Homo sapiens: one gene and its partners. The protein of the gene in region 2 purifies or fractionates together with the protein of the main gene of each other region. This does not show direct contact. Each region holds a gene or a part of one and is shown on either strand. Other genes may lie near its edges.

Region 1 (5,122 bases), on a different chromosome or scaffold from region 2:
TCTCATTCTGTCGCCCAGGCTGGAGTGCAGTGACGCCAGTGCAGTCTGGAACTCCTAGGCTCAAGGAGATCCTCCACCTCAGCTGTCCAAGTAGCTAGGACTACAAGGACGTACCACCAGGCCCAAAAGATTCTATTTTTAAACATACCTTCTTTTATTCTCAACAAATGCACTATTTCAGATAAAAATATAAAAAGTACTATTTATCTGTAAAACGGTGGCCTTTAACCTACCTTGGATAGGATTTATAACTAATCTGCAAACACTAAGATTTGGGAATAATATTTATTTAATTGAATTTATAAAAATTAACATAAAAGGCTAAGACCTCTAAGAGCAGTAGTTGGGAATTAAAAGGACCCAGGAATATAGGTTAATGTCACATAATGTAGGAATATCACAATGGGATGCATTTGATAATTAGATTTTTTTTTTTTTTGAGACGGAGTCTCGCTCTGTCACCCAGGCTGGAGTGCAGTGGCACGATCTCGGCTCACTGCAAGCTCCTCCTCCTGGTTTCACGCCATTCTCCTGCCTCAGCCTCCCAAGTAGCTGGGACTACAGGCACCCGCCACCACGTCCGTCTAATTTTTTTTGCATTTTTAGTAGAGATGGGGGTTTCACTGCGCTAGCCAGGATGGTCTCAATCTCCTGACCTCGTGATCCGCCCGCCTTATCCTCCAAAAGTGCTGGCATTACATGCGTGAGCCACCGCGCCCAGCTGATTTATTTTTTTAAAAATATTAAGTATAGTCTTAAATCAGTAGAATTTCACAGTAAACTTTTCAAGTATTTGATTTTCGGCTTATGGTAACTAAGTGTAAACCATTGCTTTTAATGTTCTTTTCAATGATATGCAAAAAAATCACACTTGATTTAAGAACATTCGTTTAAATTTAAATTCTTCACAAAACATCAAAAATGAATTACCATTATATTATAAACATGATCAAAATAAATCTTAGACATGAAAAAAGAACATAATCTCCCAAAGTAGCACAAATCTCACCTCCTTCAGAGGCAAACATAGAGCAAAATTAACAAAAAGATATTAACAGAATTGACCTGTAATTATAACATGACATACAGAAAACTTTTTAACAGAGATGATCCCTAAGAAAATTACAGTTATGAAAGATAATGAGGTGCCTTAAAATTTCCGCTTGAAAATTTTGCAAAGGCTCATTGTTGGTCCATTTAATTACTCAGGAAGATTTGATCTTCACAGGAAGCAGCTTCTAATAGCAGCTCTGGAATACTAGCTGTGACTTCCACTTGGAGGGTGCTATAATAACAGTGCACAAGAAAAATATGTTATTAAACATATAGGCCATAGCTTCAACTCCTCAAGAAGTCCTTTTTCTGAATACTACCATCCTTTAAATATGCACTTTGACTGAGCTCCCTATACGTTTATTTATACACCTGGTCTATTACAGGAACAGAAAAGCTTTAGAGTTCACAGTGAGACCACACTTTGTAAATATAGTGACCCCCCATGCCCAAGATAAAGCAGACACACACACACACACACACACACACACAATAATAAGACTTACTGCTGCCTTCAAAGCTTGATCTAGATCTTCCAGTAGGTCTTCCTCATCCTCTAAGCCCACAGAAAGTCGAATCAGTGTGTCACTAATTCCAAGGACATCTCTGTCATTCTTAAGAACTGATGCATGAGTCATGATTGCCCTGAAAGAAGACATGAGCAAATTTTTGATCACTATATTGTGTCAGTGGAGGCATGTTTCTGTCTCATAAACTGCAATTACCCTCAACATTTTTCTGGTCCAAATATCAAATTTTGCATACCCCTATAATTCACAGGCAAAAAAAGAGAAAATTACGAAACTTATCTCTTCTAGCTATGATTTTAAATGAAAAGCAAGATTGTTTTTATCCTGTTTATACCATTGGTAAGATATGCTCAATCCAAATACTGAAAGTGTGTGTCAAGTACCCCCATGCAGTAGGGTAAGGCATAGCCTCCCCAATGTGTATATTTTAATACCTGCCTAAATGAAGTTTGGCCAGAAATCATGTACTCCATGACCAACCTACTGGATTGCTACTTATAAGAGGTCTCTTGGACCAAGAGCCTGTCATAATTAGTTTCCTCTGAATCAATCCAGAGCTAGACCTTCTGAGGCACATCGGAGAAAGATGACCAAGAATCACTAGTAGCAACCAGTAAGCATTCAGAATTCCACAATATAACTCCTGGCATAGAGGCCTGGAAGGATTTTTCAAACGATCTAGCAGCCCATTACCATCATCAACAGATGTAAAGGAAAACCACCCATAATATGTCAAGCACTGCAGTAAAAATTGGGAAACCAAGAAGAATGAGATATTTTCTTTAACCTAAATAACAAAGCAGGAGGTAAAAGCGATGACAATTCACAAAACAAAATAGTCTATATAAACAATGCCAAACAAGTATAGACAAAAAGACTGCCAAGTTCCAGGGAAGGAGAAATTTCTGTGAAGAATAATGGAGGAGAGGTTTAGCATCTTACTTAACCCCAGTATGTGTATTACAACCAACACTCTTCCTTTCCCTGCACACCACCAGCAAAATCAATACCTAAGCTGCTTTCTCCTCTCTTACATGAGAGCCATGGGGAAAAAAAAATCTCAGCTGTGGTCTGAGTGATGGATATCTTCCTTTGTCACTTTACTAAAGTGTTGTTTAGATACAAACATCCATCTTAAAATGTTCTGCCCTGGGAGACTCGTAATTCCTTAAAAGAGTGTGTACATGTAGAAATAAGAACTCAGGTCTCAGAGACCAACAAACTTGGGTATGAATCTTAGCCCTTCCACATACTGCCTATGTGGCCTTATAAAAGTTACTCATCCTCAGTGCCTATTTCCTTATCTGAAATAATAATAGATGCATCTACTGTGTGCTTACCATGAGACAGATACTCTACTAGGTGGTTTGTGTGCATTAATTCATTTTTTTAATGAATAAAAATTGGATATAACACCTGTCTTAAAGGTTTGTCACAGACATTAATTTGAAGGAACATGTATAAAGCACTTCTAAGCACTTGGAATGTAGTAGAGATGTCTAATAAAAGATAATAGTTCATAGTAGGTGCTAACGTTTATTGGGTACTTAGTATGAACGAAGGCATTAGCTTAGGGATTTTTTTCCCCATGTTCTCGCAACAAACCTAAGAGCTATGTAGAGTGTTGTCCACATTTTAAAATTGAGGAAATTGAGATTTAGGGAGGATGAGTAACTTTTCTAAGGTCACAGAGTTACATGTGTTGTGAGGCTGGGAGACTAAGCTAATACACATTAGCTTCACTTCCTTCCTCCCATATTGCAATGCTGCACTAGTAGCAGCAGAGTTGGGAGACACAGAATGAAGGGTGATAGAACAGACAAGCCCTGACCTAAATCCACTCATCCTCTGGCATCGGGGTTATAGCCTAAACCAGAGTGTCTGGGGGCCAAGCAACTTTAAACAAAAATCCCTAAATAAATCAGGAGAGATTTATTTTAAGACAATTTTTTAAACAAGAGAGTCTTAACGTAATACACATTTCATTACTGTGAAAAACAAACCCATTTCACATGCTGAGTGTGCCCTCTTGTGCATCCAAACTTACTAGCAGGCATCTTCCGGAAAGACTAACAAAAATCTGCGTTACATGAATTATTTCAAGTCATTATTTAGACATCTTTTTTTTTTTTTTAACTTGGTGAGACTGCCTGACTTTTGGTCTAACTGTAAACTCCTATACAAAGACAGAAAATAGGCCTAAACTTTGGTGGGACCTGACATTTCTCCACACAATGCTTGCAAAACAAGTTATTCCATAAATGTTTATAAAAATGAAGACACAGAAATACACCGTATACATTTAGTACAGTTAAAAATAGTTAGGTTATGATGTTGACTTAACCCTGCAGTAATTACAACATATGGTCATAGTAGCATATAATAAAGGTAATATATATATCAGGAATGCTTGGGGGGACAGGTAATCAATAAATGATAATCATTAATTTTTTGTTGTTGTTTTGGTTCTTTTTTGAGACAGAGTCTCGCTGCATCACCCAGGCTGGAGTGCAGTGGTGCGATCTTGGCTTGCTGCAACCTCGGCTCACTGCAACCTCCATCACTTGGGTTCAAGCGATTCTCGTGCCTTAGCCACCCAAGTAACTGGGATTATAGGTGTACACCACCACACTCGGATAATTTTTTTTTTTTTTAGGAGAGACAGGGTTTCACCATGTTGGCCAGGCTGGTCTTGAACTCCTGACCTCAAGTGGCCCACCTCGGCCTCCCAAAGTACTGGAATTGCAGGCGTCAGCCATTGCACCAGGCCGAAAATCATTAATTATTAATCTCATTTTATGTGTTAAAAAATGGAAGTTTAAAGGTTAACTAATTGGTGGAAGCAGATCTCAAATCTAGATCCAAGCACCTTTTACCTCCCCTCACTGTTTCTGATGCAAATCCAAGAGTGAAGCTGCGAACACGTTCCTGTGTGACACTTGAGTCAATCAGCTCAACTTTCTGGATCTTTGTTTCCTTGCCTGTAAAATAAGCTGCTGGACTGTATGATCTTAGACTGCTTCTTGTACCAATATCCTCTGATGCTTTGAAAAAACTAGATGAATTGATTGGGTTAGATACTGAAGGGCCTGGTACCAAGTTAGGGTTTGGATTTATCTTGTACACAACATGAAGACATTAAAGGTTTATCCTACAGAGAACAGAAAACAAAAGATTTGACAGTATCTAGTAGGGCTGTTCTCCAACAATCAAGGGCATGGAGGAGTTTCATCAGAGACACATTTTCTGTTTCCCAAAGAGCCTTGAAAACAGCTTTTCTAGTACAAAGTCTCCAATCCCCTCTAAGGCTGAGTAGGGTAGAACATGTGGCCCTTGCTTAGAGGTCAGAGATCAGAGATCCTAGAATACAGTTACTGCTGGAATCTCTTTTTGACAGAGCAGGGAAGGAAGCAACATTTGGGAGGACACCGCTCACTAACAAGAAGCCCTCCATGAGATTTTATCAGGGTCTCCATCTTGACAGGGTTAGAGTCCATTCTGATTAATGTCCTGCTATTCTTATTGTTAAATATCTTGAA
Region 2 (7,195 bases):
GAGATGGATGAAGGTCAGGTTTACCAATCCTTCAAAAGAGCCCAGCTTTGTGATCTTGTTATGAGTAAGCTGCAGATCCTCCAGAGATTTGGGAAGTGGGCCCACAGACTCTGTCAGGTTGTTGTGGTTTATATGCAGCTTCTTCAGTTGTTTCAATTTAGAGAAAACTCTCCCTTTTATCTTGGAGTTTTCTAGAAGGTTGTGATCTAGAATGAGCCACTGCAGATCAGTTACATTCTCAAAGGCCTTTTCATCAATATGGTCAATCTGGTTATTCCTAAGGTAAAGATACTTGATTCCAGGAGGCACCATTGGTACACTTTTCAATTTCAGCTCATCACAGTACATGGCACTTGGGTAGCTTTCAGGGCAGTTACATTCTGGTGCACAGTTTGGTGATGATTGCCCATAAATTGATAGGGGAAAATCATAATCATAGTACTGGCCACTGGTACCACCAATCAATGCCAGGAAGAGAGTAAATGCACTTAGACTCATTTTTGGCAAATGGTTTGAATCCTAAATAAAGATGAAACATTTATTAATTAAAAAAATATATACTTTCAAGAAAAAGACATTCAATTTGCAACATTAAATTCATTAGAAAATGTGCATTTTGTTATTTTATAGCTATTTTTAGTGCATCTAACAGCGTCTTTTAAATTTTTATTTAGGTATGAGGACAAAGGTGTATGTTTACAACTATGTAGTGAGCAGCTTTCAGGTTAGATTGCGTACACGTGCGCCCCCTTCTGGGCGAGCCCAGCCTAATTGTTCCAGTCAATCTCCAGGCTCTTCCTTAATGAAATGCCTTCCTGTAAGAGGTTTCTGGGTGGTGTTCATTGACCACCGAATTAGACTACTGCTTCAGATCATCTCTCAAAAAAAGAGAATGAGAAGACAGTTTTTAACTGTATACTCTACCCTACCATTCGACATCATTAAAATGACTCATGAAGAAGATCCTTACGGGAATATGGGCAACCTGAGGTTTTGCTTGTATGTGGGAGGGAAATGGAAGGCACATTCCTTTAAAAGTGTCTGGTTACTGTTGGTTCTGAGGAAGGAGAACAGAATTCTTGGTGCTGGTGTGCATGCATACTAGTTCATGTTGTGCTTAACATTCTACACTTTTTAAAGCACATTGCAAAACTGTGTTCTGGAACTAATATTTCATAAATTAGCTATTTACTAAACAAAATATTAGTAATATTTAATAATTGCTAATGTTTATCAGGAAAATGTCACACATTCTGAAGGTTTCTCTTTCTGGAAAGAGATTCAACAGGTAGAGAAAGATAGTATTTTCCAAGTTTTCAATTAGAGTTATAGTCTCTCTCAATTACTCACAAGTTCTCTACTTTCTTCATGCCAAAATCGAAGATGCCATGGTTTGCATATCTGGCTTTTAGTGGCCTCACAGAATGGAGGTGGGAGAGAGGTGTGATGTTTTTAAAGTTTGGATTTAATACTGGTGTTAGAACTATCTAGTAAATTATTCAATTGAGAATATGAATTTGAAATAATGTGTAACAGTTATCTTCTCATAGGAACATGTTTCTAAGGTGAGGCTCAAAAAAGTACATTTCAATGTCTTAGGTGCAGCAATTTAGATATGGGAAAATTGGAATATAAGAGTTAGACTTTTATAGAGTGAACAGTTGTGGCTGAGGCAAAGTTGGTAGCCCTGGGAGATAAATCATTAATGTGACGAAAGATCTACATTCTAATAGATAACTGAGAATATTATATCTTTCTATGAAAGTATGATTACAAGCTTTTGGATCAAAGTAGTTTGGGATAAGCAGGATCTTTGGGGTTAGAAACTGAAAACGTCTTTTATTTGTTTTAATTTGAAATTGTAAGGCACTTTATTTCAGATCAGATGGAACGTTATAAAACAGCTTTTAGAAATACTTTGATTGCTGACATAAGGTAACATGTAGCCAGATTCTCAGTAAATTACTCTCTAAGATTTTAATGGGGGCATTTAATTTTGCTGACAGAACTTGGCCATAATAATAATTGCATAGCACTAAAAAGAACGTGATGACATATTCCCAGAGTTATTTTAAGTTATAGAATGTAAATACTGTAAAGATTTGTCTTGCTTTATTAATAAGCTATTTTAAATTTACTATACACCAAAATATGGCAACTATAATGTGAGTATTAAATAGTAATGAAAAATGCTTCCATATTTTTTGGCAAAGTAAAAACAAGGATGCTGAATTGAATGAGAGTTTGCAACCATATAATGACTCCACTATGAGGCAAAATCACACTGTACTACCCTCAGTTTTTTCAAATACCTGTGGCTATAGAGAAAATGCTGTTTTCAAAAACGAAATCATTTCCCAGAACTTTTTAAAAAACTCGTTCCTTAAGGCATATATCCAAGAAACAAATTTTTTAAATTAACAAAACAGAAATAAATAATCCATAAGAGTTCCTAAATCTTTTAGCTCATGTTTTATAACATAGAACGTTTATTGTAAATTATAACAAATTGTCACAATATGCTTATTAAAAGATATTTTGAATGCTGATTAAAATGACTTTTCTTTGCTCCAGTATTAGGGTCCAATACTAACATATATAACTAACTAGCATACATAACAAACATATTAATTTCTATATTTTTTCACTGTGTCTACTTTAACTATTTTCTCATTCTAACCTTGAAACTTTTTATAACTTCTCTTGCCAAGCAATACAGCATATACTGTATAAAATCTCAAATCTATAAATCATGGAAAACATATTAACAAAATGTGAAACTAAATGCTCAGAACTGTGGATTTGCTGTTGAATAGCAATTGGCAAAATTGCTCTGGAATTTTTCCTGTTCCTGTTACAAAAAACGCTGTCCCAAACAGTTAACATCCCCAGTGCAATAGTTAAAACAGCACTTACCTTACTGTCTTGACACTGCTTTCGTTAATTCTTAAAGCAGATGCACTATGGACAAGAATCCACCAATATATGCTGTGAACTCTGTCAGGACGGAACTGGCTGCCAGATTCTGAGTGATACAAGAGCTGAAGGGGGGTGGGGAGACCCAGCCCAGTCACGCCAGTCTCTGAATGGAGTTATGTCATTGTGGGGATCTTGTGGTGTGGCATGTGAACACTGCTCTCTAACGAAGTGCAGGTGAACGTGGGGAGAAAGGACAGCCCAGCTCATTCCCTATGGAATGGGAGAGAGATATGTGTTTAACTAGCTCAAATACCATAGCTTTTAACCAAGAATTGAGTCCTGCTTCAAATAAGGAAGCTCACTGTGAGAACATTTTTCTTACAAGCCTCTTTACATCTGTGGCTGTGGCAACAATTAAGTGCAATGTGCTCAGCCAACTATCATGTTTATCTAAAGATCTCAGAAATCATAAGCAGGGCAAATAATTTCAGGAAAACGCAAATGAACAGACTCAGAGGAATTGAATCCCTTTGCCTATCACTTTTGAAATCAATATTGATTTACTTGGACTAACTTAATTTTTTGGCCATGAGGGTAGCTTACATTAGTTTTAAAAATATAAAATATGCTTCATATACACTTGGATACACATGATAAATATCAACATTTCAAGTTTACTTCTAATGCTAAGGAGACTCATTTTATGTTATTCAGGTCTGGAACCAATCAGCAAAGTCTTGCCTGTTTTTTATTTTGTGGATTTCGTTTAGGAATTCACCCAAAACCTTACTTGGGGAGAGCATTCTATAGCTTAATGCCAAAAAACATAAAAGAACAGAGAAAAAAATAAATTTATACTAAAAGTATCACAAGGCAAGAATCTTTCATTGCATGCTAGTAATTTTTTTTCAAAGTTAAAAGTTATTCAAAGTTATAATCTCCCAAAGGCCTGGCTGGATATATCTTTCATTATCAGCTCCTGATGCATGGTTTCAGCAAATGAGAGATGTACTTAAATCCTTGTCTATTTCATTTTGTGATTTTATCAGATATATTTATGAGATTTTTTTCTAAAATGTTCATTTCCTCATGTTTATAAGAACTTTTACACCAATATATTTTAATATAAGTTGTCACATTGTATTTTTGTCTTTAAAAATAACTATATCACATTTTAGCAGTGAGACTTGTGGAAAATTAACTCCATGACTAATACTGCATTTGTCCGAAAAAAAGACTATTAGAATAAATGGCTTATTTTTGTAATAGCAGTGTTCAAAAACAAAAAGTAATCTTCTTGAAAGTAACTAATGGAATTGTAAGATGATTCATAAACATAACATTTTTCCTAATATTATTTTAAGAAAATTATTGATAGGCCTCAGTTTCAACAAAGTAACTGAATAAATTTATAAGGAATTAAGAAAAAAAGACAAATCAATCGAATATAATTAAGTGATCTTGTTATAAGAGGATTCTTAAAACAATGCTATGTATTAATTTTGAGTGTATCAAATTCTATAATCTGAGCTCTTGTTAGAAAAACTCCACCTATCCATTCCTTAAGATTTTTCTTTATAAAGCAATACATGTGTTGTGGTATTTATAACAGACCTCAAATGCATTATATTGGATTTAGCTCATTGTAAAGTCTTGTCAACATATACTTTTTAATAAAATCAGTTCTGTGAAACCAATAATTGAATAATTTTGTGCGTTTCAGAGCATATTTTCAGGGTCCAATAGAAAGAAATGAAATTAACATTTATAGTGGATCTAATATATTCCATGATTTATACTCAGAGTTTTCACATTTCTTCCTTTAAATTTCATACATTAAAATTCCTATGGTATGTTTTACTACTCTATTTTCAGGAGTATAAATGGAGAGTCAGAAAGTCTCATTCATTTGCTAAAAGTCACCTAACAAGTAAATGTAAGAATAAAACCATGAACATCTTCACTCACTGGGAAGAGGGTGAACAGGATGGAGCTGAGACAATGTAGTTCACTCAATCAGCTTAAAATACTTTATAGACAATGTTACTATCAGTTGAGAAAAAGCAGAAATATTAAATAGGCAATAGTTATTTAAAAAGTCAAATGTTAATTAAGCAATAGTTTCTTTCCTTTTACATTACACACTAACATATAACATGCATAGCCACATCCACATCTCAGAACTTTTGGGTAACGTATAAACATTCCATCCTGGCCAATGGTGATTCACATCATTGGTGATAATGAGCATTGGAGGCTAAATGCATTTCATCACAATACAGGTTAAAATGATGGGAGTTCTCATTGTTCACCTCCCACTTATGAGTGAGAACATGGGGAACAATACACACCCGGGCCTGTCAGGGGTTGGTGGGCACGGGGAAGGACAGCATTAGGAAAGATACCTAATGCATGCAGGGCTTAAAACCCAGATGACGGGTCAATAGCGGCAGCAAACCACCATGGCAAATGTGTAACTAAGCAACGAACCTGAACATTCTGCACATGTATCCCGGAACTTAAATTAAAAAGAAAAAAAAAAAAAGATGGAATTGCCCTCTTCAGCCCAGGGACTGGATTCCCTGTTACCTGAGACCAGCAAGGATAATAAAGCATGTTATGACTGTTTCACACACTGTGTTCTGAACCCAGCCCTGGACTTACAGGGGAAAAGAATAAATTAAGTATTCCATCCCAGAGATAACTATCTTTTGGTATATCTTCTTAATGTGTGGGTATAAACATAAACACACAGACAATTTGGTTTTCACATATATCATAACATTATGCTTATAGTGCCAGACCCATTTTCATATAACAGTAAATCATTGATGTTTTTCTATATCATTAAATATCATTCTCTACTGTCATTTTTATTTGCTACATGAAATTCTGTTATATGGATATACCATAATGTAGTTGTTAGTTTTTAATATTGAACACTTGATTTCTCTTAAAATTTGCAAAGCACTATCACATAAAATGAAATTTTAATCTTTAAATTGGTTGTACCTGCTTTGTCTATTCTGCTTATCTCAAAAGATACATTTTAAATGAAAGCATATTTTGAGTAAATGGTTTATGCTTTCAAATCATAGAGTGGAGTGGATTTGAATTTTTTCTCTTCTCACAACAATCTAATTCCCATTCTTAATTTTAGCATCTTACAAGTCATGAAACTATCTTTTATTTACATAGTCCTTATACTCATAGCTGTATGTATTTTCAAACTTACTCTACAATTGCTTTTATTTTTCTTAGTATCTTACATGACAAGTACATTTTTGGAATTATCAATGATATGGTTTATTATATGTTTTTCAGTAATAAGTGTGCATTATAAGAGTAATATATATAAATTGGAACACTATACCAAAACATTAACCAGCATAGCAGTATATAAGGTTAAACATTAAATAACCCCTGGCTTAACTAACTCTCCAATTGCACTTTCTATAAGTAATTGTTGTTTAGACTTTATTAATTCAGATGTTTCAGACATGTCTTATATACACAAGAGAATTTCATTTCTCTTTCCTCTTTTATGGCAGCCTATGAGATAACTCAGACAGTTCAGAACTCAGATAACTTCTTCACTTAGGTAAGTGCACAGTCATAAATTTGCTTTTGGGAGAAATTCCTCTTTTCTCATGATAAGCAATGCTGTATTGAGGAAGTTTTGTGCAAGATAGCTTAAGGAAAATCCCAAAAGTAAGTGGGCTTTCTGGAGAACACAAATTTGTACACATATTTAAAAATTTTATAATTATTACCTAATTACCTCCAAAATGTTGTTCTGCTTATCACTCCCATCAAAGGTAGATGAGAATACACTTTTTCACCAGTCATTCATGAAGTTTGAATATGATCAAGCTTAAAATATCTATGATCTAATTGTTAAAGTTTTATTTCTTAAATAATATCTGGTAGTGCCAGTCTCCCTTCTTTATTCCTTAAGTGTAGGCTTATCAAACCTTAAAGCATCTGACCATGGCTAAACTCCCTGATGCCATTTTCTTTCCTCCTTCTGCCTTACATTCTAGCCATTTTGACCTTTACCCAGGACCTGATATATGAGAAGTCTGTTCCTACTTCAGGTCCTTTACCAGCTGTTCTCTTTGACTGAAGTGCTGTTCCCACAGACTAGCGTTTCTCAAACATTTTGCCTACAGGACTCTATGTACTTAAAATTTGTTGACGTTTTGAGGACCCCAAAGACGTATGTGGAGTCCATCTACCAGTGTGTATCACATTCAAAATTAAAACTGAGAAATAT
Region 3 (5,693 bases), on a different chromosome or scaffold from region 2:
AAAAGTAAATAAAAGTCTAAAAATATATGGATGAAAATTGTTTCAATAACCAAACTGACAAAGGTAATGATGGTTTCTAGTGTTTAAAATTGCAGGAGTCAAATGATTACTTAGAAAAAGAAAGTGCACAATGAATCTGTATTTCATCTATCTTGTGCCTGATTAATTCAAAATAAAGATATATCCTAAATGTTCAAGACAATTTCTTCTACTTAACAACTTTATGAGACCAAACTTCAATATATTAAAATACTGTTAAAATGAGTATAAATAATTCAAAAATCAGTAAGTGAATTTAATGAAAGTAAGTACTGTATTACTATGGCTCATTTTGAAGCAAATTAACTGTAAAATATCTGAAACTTGGATTTAGAAGTATTAATTATTCAAGGGTAATAATTTTTTAATGTTTTTTAGGCTCATGTCCATGGCATTTTATAATTTGACATATAAACATATTTTATGATATATATATACTATAAAGCAAGAGATTTACTAAGAGTCAGAAAGAAAGAAAAAATATTAGAACACCAATTTTTAGGGAACAAATTTATTTTGATTTTTCTGAAAATATCAGGAACTATGAAAAAACAAGCTCGATTTCTGGCCGTACCAAAAGCAAAATACAAGTAAAAATAACATTTGAAAACCAAGTTTAACCTCAGAGAATCATGTTTTAAAATACAAAGTTTAACATTCTTTCCTCTATGGAGCTAAACAAGTTTTCTAAACCATAAGACTGCAGTTTTTTTATTTTTTTAACTGACGTAATTTTTTAAAAGAAAAAACAAAAGGGGAATAAAAAGCACTTCCTACCCTGGAATCCCGTCATTTATAAAATAACATGCTCAAATGTCAGTGAAAATAAACAGTTGATAAACCTGAAAACAAGTCTTTTAATGAGTTCAGGTTACAACCGAACACAGGATTTTGTAACTGGGAAAGAACAGCTTGTGTAACAACCGATTCTTACCAAATACAAATAAATATAAAAGACAATTTAAAAACAAACTGTATAATCAAAATCTTTCCGTAAAATAGCAGCTTTCACAAAGTAAAAACAATTTAGTTCCACAGAGTTGTATGCTCTGTAGGCATATGGCCAATTTTCTTCCGAGTCCTTTTGTCTTGCACTATCAAAATAGAATCTTTGTCTTGGAGCAAGTCTGCTGAAGAAGGCACCAAAATCCTATCCTCCCTATTCCCCTAACTGATATTAATAATCCTCTTATCAATCATTGCAAGGTAACTTCAATGTCATTAAGTATTAACATTCTAAATATGTAAAGCTATAGAAGGAAGGTCCTGCCTATTCTCTTTGCCCCTCTCAAATCATTCTAGTCTGGTTTACCAAACAGAACCACCAGCTAGGAGGATAAAAATACATTCCCATGTTCACTAGCCATTAAATGAACATAGCCACTTGTGCAGGAAGCCTAACATTTTTAGGATTTCCTAACTTTTTAAAACTTAAGGATAAGTCCATTTCTACAAGCTAATTTTACAGCTCCTTAATATTCTTAATCTGGACAGTTAATTTTGCAGACTTTGTTGGTGTCTGCCTTTTCAATTGTTTTACCCAAAAAGAGGCCTTGAAAAAACTTTCAAATTCAGGAAACCCCTAAACCCCTGCAGAGAACCCTCATGGTATGTGAGTGTGAGCACTAAGTTGAAGAATACTCTTATTTCACAGAAATCTAGGACTGTCAGACTAGGGCTGAGTTCATTCTCTTCCTTCAGAGACAAAATTTCAAGCTGAGCAGATTCAGAGACAAGGGTTCCTCATAGGTTATATACTAGTGCTGGGAAAAGGAGAGAAAATGCTATTTCATTGGGTCTTGTGGTTCCTCCAGCCGGGTTAGAACAAGATTTGAGAGTTGCACCCTTTATTTTCAAGGCCAAGTGGCTGCAGAAACATTTCAAGAATTCCTCTGGCAAGGTGGCAAGTCAGTTTCCTTTTAGATCTAAGAGTCTTGTCGCTTTAAGAAAAATTTTTTTCCCCAGAACCTTTCAGAGACTTGTCCATTTGTTCATGTGATGAAAAACGTCTGCAAAATAGGCTACTTTCTGTAGTCATTTTTCATTTCCAAAGCACTCAGCAAAAGCTGGCTGTTTTATTGTAAGTACTCTGGCAATTCACCTTTCAATTCAAATATCCTGTAGAGAACGCTTCCTCTGAGAAGCCACTGGATGTCTGTATGGTGCAGGAGGTTTATGTGCTGTCTGTCCAGGTTTTTGTTTTGGGTGTTTTTTTTTTTTTTTAACATTTTTGCATAAATGGGTCTTTGATACAGGTAACCAGTTTTGTAACATTATTCAGAACTTCACTGTATCTTCAAGTTTTTGATATCAGCATCTCTGTGGAGAAAGCAGTGTGCTATAATGTCAACATCAGGATTTCTTTTTTTTTTTTTAATAACGCAAAATGACTTATGGAGACAACCACTGATGGGGCACCAGGAGTGTAGATACCAGACCTCTGGTTATCAGATATGATGTCACAACATTATATATTGGCCTTTGTTCTGGCAGGCTCCTAGCAATAGAAAAAGTTTTCTTTGAATTTCATCATTTACAAATCTTACAAATGCTACAGCATGACAAATATTAGTGAAACCTGTTGACTCATCATCCTGGATAGAGAAGCTGCTACTTTTCAGTTAATGACACAAAACCTTTTTTGCATCATATGACATATCATCAGTAAATCAACTTATTGAGAATAAAGTCTCTTCAACTTTGTACTGCATCTTGCCCCAGCATTTTAATGTTATTAGATTCTCACCAACCATGCATATTTTCCTTTCCTGAGATAAGTTCTGCTACTAAATAATTTGCTTCTTAAACCTTTTGACTAAAGGTGATTTCTGAACAAAAGCCTTACTGTTTTTGATAGTCCAAAAGCCATTTGAAAATAATGAATATCCTTTCTTGTCAAGTGGCTGTGATTTATTGTTACAATTGCTAGTTTTGTAAGTTGCATGTCACAGACAATGCACAATGGGACAGGAGAGCTTGGACTGAGTCCACATAATACCCTTGAGAAGTAGCTTTCTTTATTAAGACAGAATTTCTTTGTGTCCCTTGTTGCACTAGTATACTGAAGTATACTCAGAAGACTGAAGTTCTTCATCACCAACCTTTTCAGAAATGTCTGTAGTTCTATGCCTAAAATGGTTCTCGTCTCTCTCACATCTTGCCTTCCAAAATTGCGACACTGGACTGTCAGCTATATTACACACAAATGTTAAAAAAAAAAAAAAAAAACAGACATAAACAAGAAAATCACAAAAGTACAAAAACTTCACTAAACAATTCACTTCTAACCTACATGATCCACATTTTTGCAATGTTTACAACAAAGTGGCAGGCAGACAGCTGAGCTGTGGCATGTAAAAACTCCTTCCTTAGAATGAAAACTTCCCTCTGATTTTCTACTTCACAGGTAGTTCACTCCCTTAAGTCAGCTGGCACTGCAGAAGAGGAGCCTGGGAGAGGCCAACATCCCCCTCCTATCCTCCCCTCTTTGCAACAGCAGCACATGGGTCTGCCTCTACGTAATACCATAAAGGCTGAAAGATCCCTAAAAAAACTGTTAACAGGGCTGCGCAATCATTGCTCACTACTGTGAGAACAGCATAATGCAGCACACAAATAAAAAACTGTTTTTAGTCACAATTTAAGGTGGAGCCCCAGCAACATCTCGTAGAGCCCCAGGTGAGAAACCCACCTCCAACACCAAATGACTTCCTATGAGAAGTCATTTTCATTTGACTTGGATCCTTCTGTGGCTTGACTTGCAAGTTCAGGTTTGGCTCCTCCCTCATTTACCACCTGTGGATTAGACGTTGGTTTTGTCTGCCCCAGCTCCTCAGTATTCTCTGGTACCTGCTGGTTATTTTTTCCTTCTGCTGTGTTGTTTTGGTCTGATTTGTCCGCAGATTCCAGTTTAGCTTCTTTCCCATTTCCCTGCTTTGAGTTAAGCTGTGACGGATCCTTAGGGCTCTTCACCACCTCCTGGAGATTGTATTTTCTAAACAACATGTAATCTTTCACAACACTCAGGCAACAGACAGCTTTGATGATTTCTACTACCACTGTGTACTGTGGATTGGTGAGATCCACTTTATTTTCTGAATTGAGGGTGCACACTATTCCTGTAACAAAAACAGAAAAACACATAGCTGAGGAGGATACCATTACATCTGATAGATACAAAAAATCTTTTGTCTCTGTTTCTTGTTAAAACAAGACATACAGTAATCCACTCTTCTATGTGGACTTCAAATAATCTGAACCCTTACAATAAATAAACACAAATGAAACCCTACAACATTTAATAAGAATTTTTTTCCAAACAAAATTCAATTTCGAGTTAAAAAAGACTTTTATCTAACTACCAGAAAATCTCATATCCGACATATTGAAATCAGTTGATTTAATACTATTTTAAGAACATTTTAATATATTTGTTCTACACTCAAAAATGTAAGCCTTAAATCTTTAAAAAGAAAAAAATCCTTAAAAAACAAGTATTTACCATTGAATGCCTATGGAAAATCACTAAGAGAAACATACCTGCCAATTCTCTGATAACTTCTTCTCTATTCACATGACTGTTATTTCGAGATTTGTACACAATCTGAAATGTCCCTTTGTTTGGAGCTTTAAACCAGGGTTCCAAAAATGTTTCTGCATATTTTTTCATATCTTCTAAAAAAGCCTTGCATGTGCCTGAGATGGGTAACATTCGCAAAATAACTCGAGTCTTCTTTTTCTTGGTTTTGTACATATCCTGGAGAATATGATGCACCAATTTCTCAGGCTCTTAAGAAAAAAAAAAAGTTAAGAAGATAATTTCTCAGACATCTTAAAGATCGAACTCTAAAATGAATTTTCACTGGCAATGACATAAGTTGACAGAAGAAATTCTCATAATGAATTTTAAATGAATCTACCTAGTCATTCTTTCCAAACAGTATTTCTTCAGTGCCTAATACGTACTATAATGTATCTAATATATTTTAACTTTTCATCATTATTACTGCTTGCACTAGAAATGACTGTTTAGGTAGACACCGTTGTTAACATTTTTGTGATGTCCTGAGTTATCCAACCGTAACACCATGCTGTTGTTTTCCTGTAACAACAGAGTACATTAAACAGTACACACTTTTTTACAAAAAAAAAAAAAAAAAATTCTGTGAGTCACTTTAAAAGATGTAATTAATCCATTAGCTAAGTTAGCACACAAGTCTAAATCTCAGACCCAAGAGGAATCCCAGAACCATGCTGGGCACAACATCATGAAAGGGAGGTCCTCAGGCTGCAACTTGCCTACATACAAGTATATTTGGGGCTGCTCCGAAAATTTGTAAATTAGTTGACCACACTGAAAAACAAAAAAACTCCAGATTTCAAACTTCTTTTGAGAAATTCAAATACCTGGCCCTGCATTCCCAAAGAGCAACAACTGGCTGGAGCTGAGTAGCAGCTGCCCCTTATTTACACAGAACTGGCACTCTAGTTCTGCCTTAAGTTATATACGAAGGAAGCAGCAAAGCCAGGTTTCCACTCATAAGCCAATGCTACGTCCACCACCCCATTCTACCTCTCCACAGGCCAACTGCTAATACAGTGTACAGAAGCTGCCATCAAATGATTAACTGAGTCATGCCCAAGAAGCCATTTTG

Evidence for each region.
Region 1: the proteins of LUM (region 2) and CTH purify together in Homo sapiens (affinity purification with mass spectrometry; 2 studies listed by BioGRID and IntAct, with this or other methods). This does not show direct contact.
Region 3: the proteins of LUM (region 2) and THUMPD1 purify together in Homo sapiens (affinity purification with mass spectrometry; 2 studies listed by BioGRID and IntAct, with this or other methods). This does not show direct contact.

Annotation. Positions count from the first base shown.
Region 1 is NC_000001.11:70,435,264-70,440,385, reverse strand, and holds the end of CTH (cystathionine gamma-lyase), read right to left. Parts: intron 1,699-5,122; coding exon 1,560-1,698; intron 1,286-1,559; coding exon 1,259-1,285; 3' UTR 535-1,258; downstream 1-534. UniProt on the Homo sapiens protein: Catalyzes the last step in the trans-sulfuration pathway from L-methionine to L-cysteine in a pyridoxal-5'-phosphate (PLP)-dependent manner, which consists on cleaving the L,L-cystathionine molecule into L-cysteine, ammonia and 2-oxobutanoate.
Region 2 is NC_000012.12:91,108,482-91,115,676, forward strand, and holds the start of LUM (lumican precursor), read right to left. Parts: upstream 3,014-7,195; 5' UTR 2,917-3,013; intron 520-2,916; 5' UTR 499-519; coding exon 1-498.
Region 3 is NC_000016.10:20,733,130-20,738,822, forward strand, and holds the end of THUMPD1 (THUMP domain-containing protein 1), read right to left. Parts: intron 4,828-5,693; coding exon 4,579-4,827; intron 4,158-4,578; coding exon 3,751-4,157; 3' UTR 535-3,750; downstream 1-534. UniProt on the Homo sapiens protein: Functions as a tRNA-binding adapter to mediate NAT10-dependent tRNA acetylation modifying cytidine to N4-acetylcytidine (ac4C).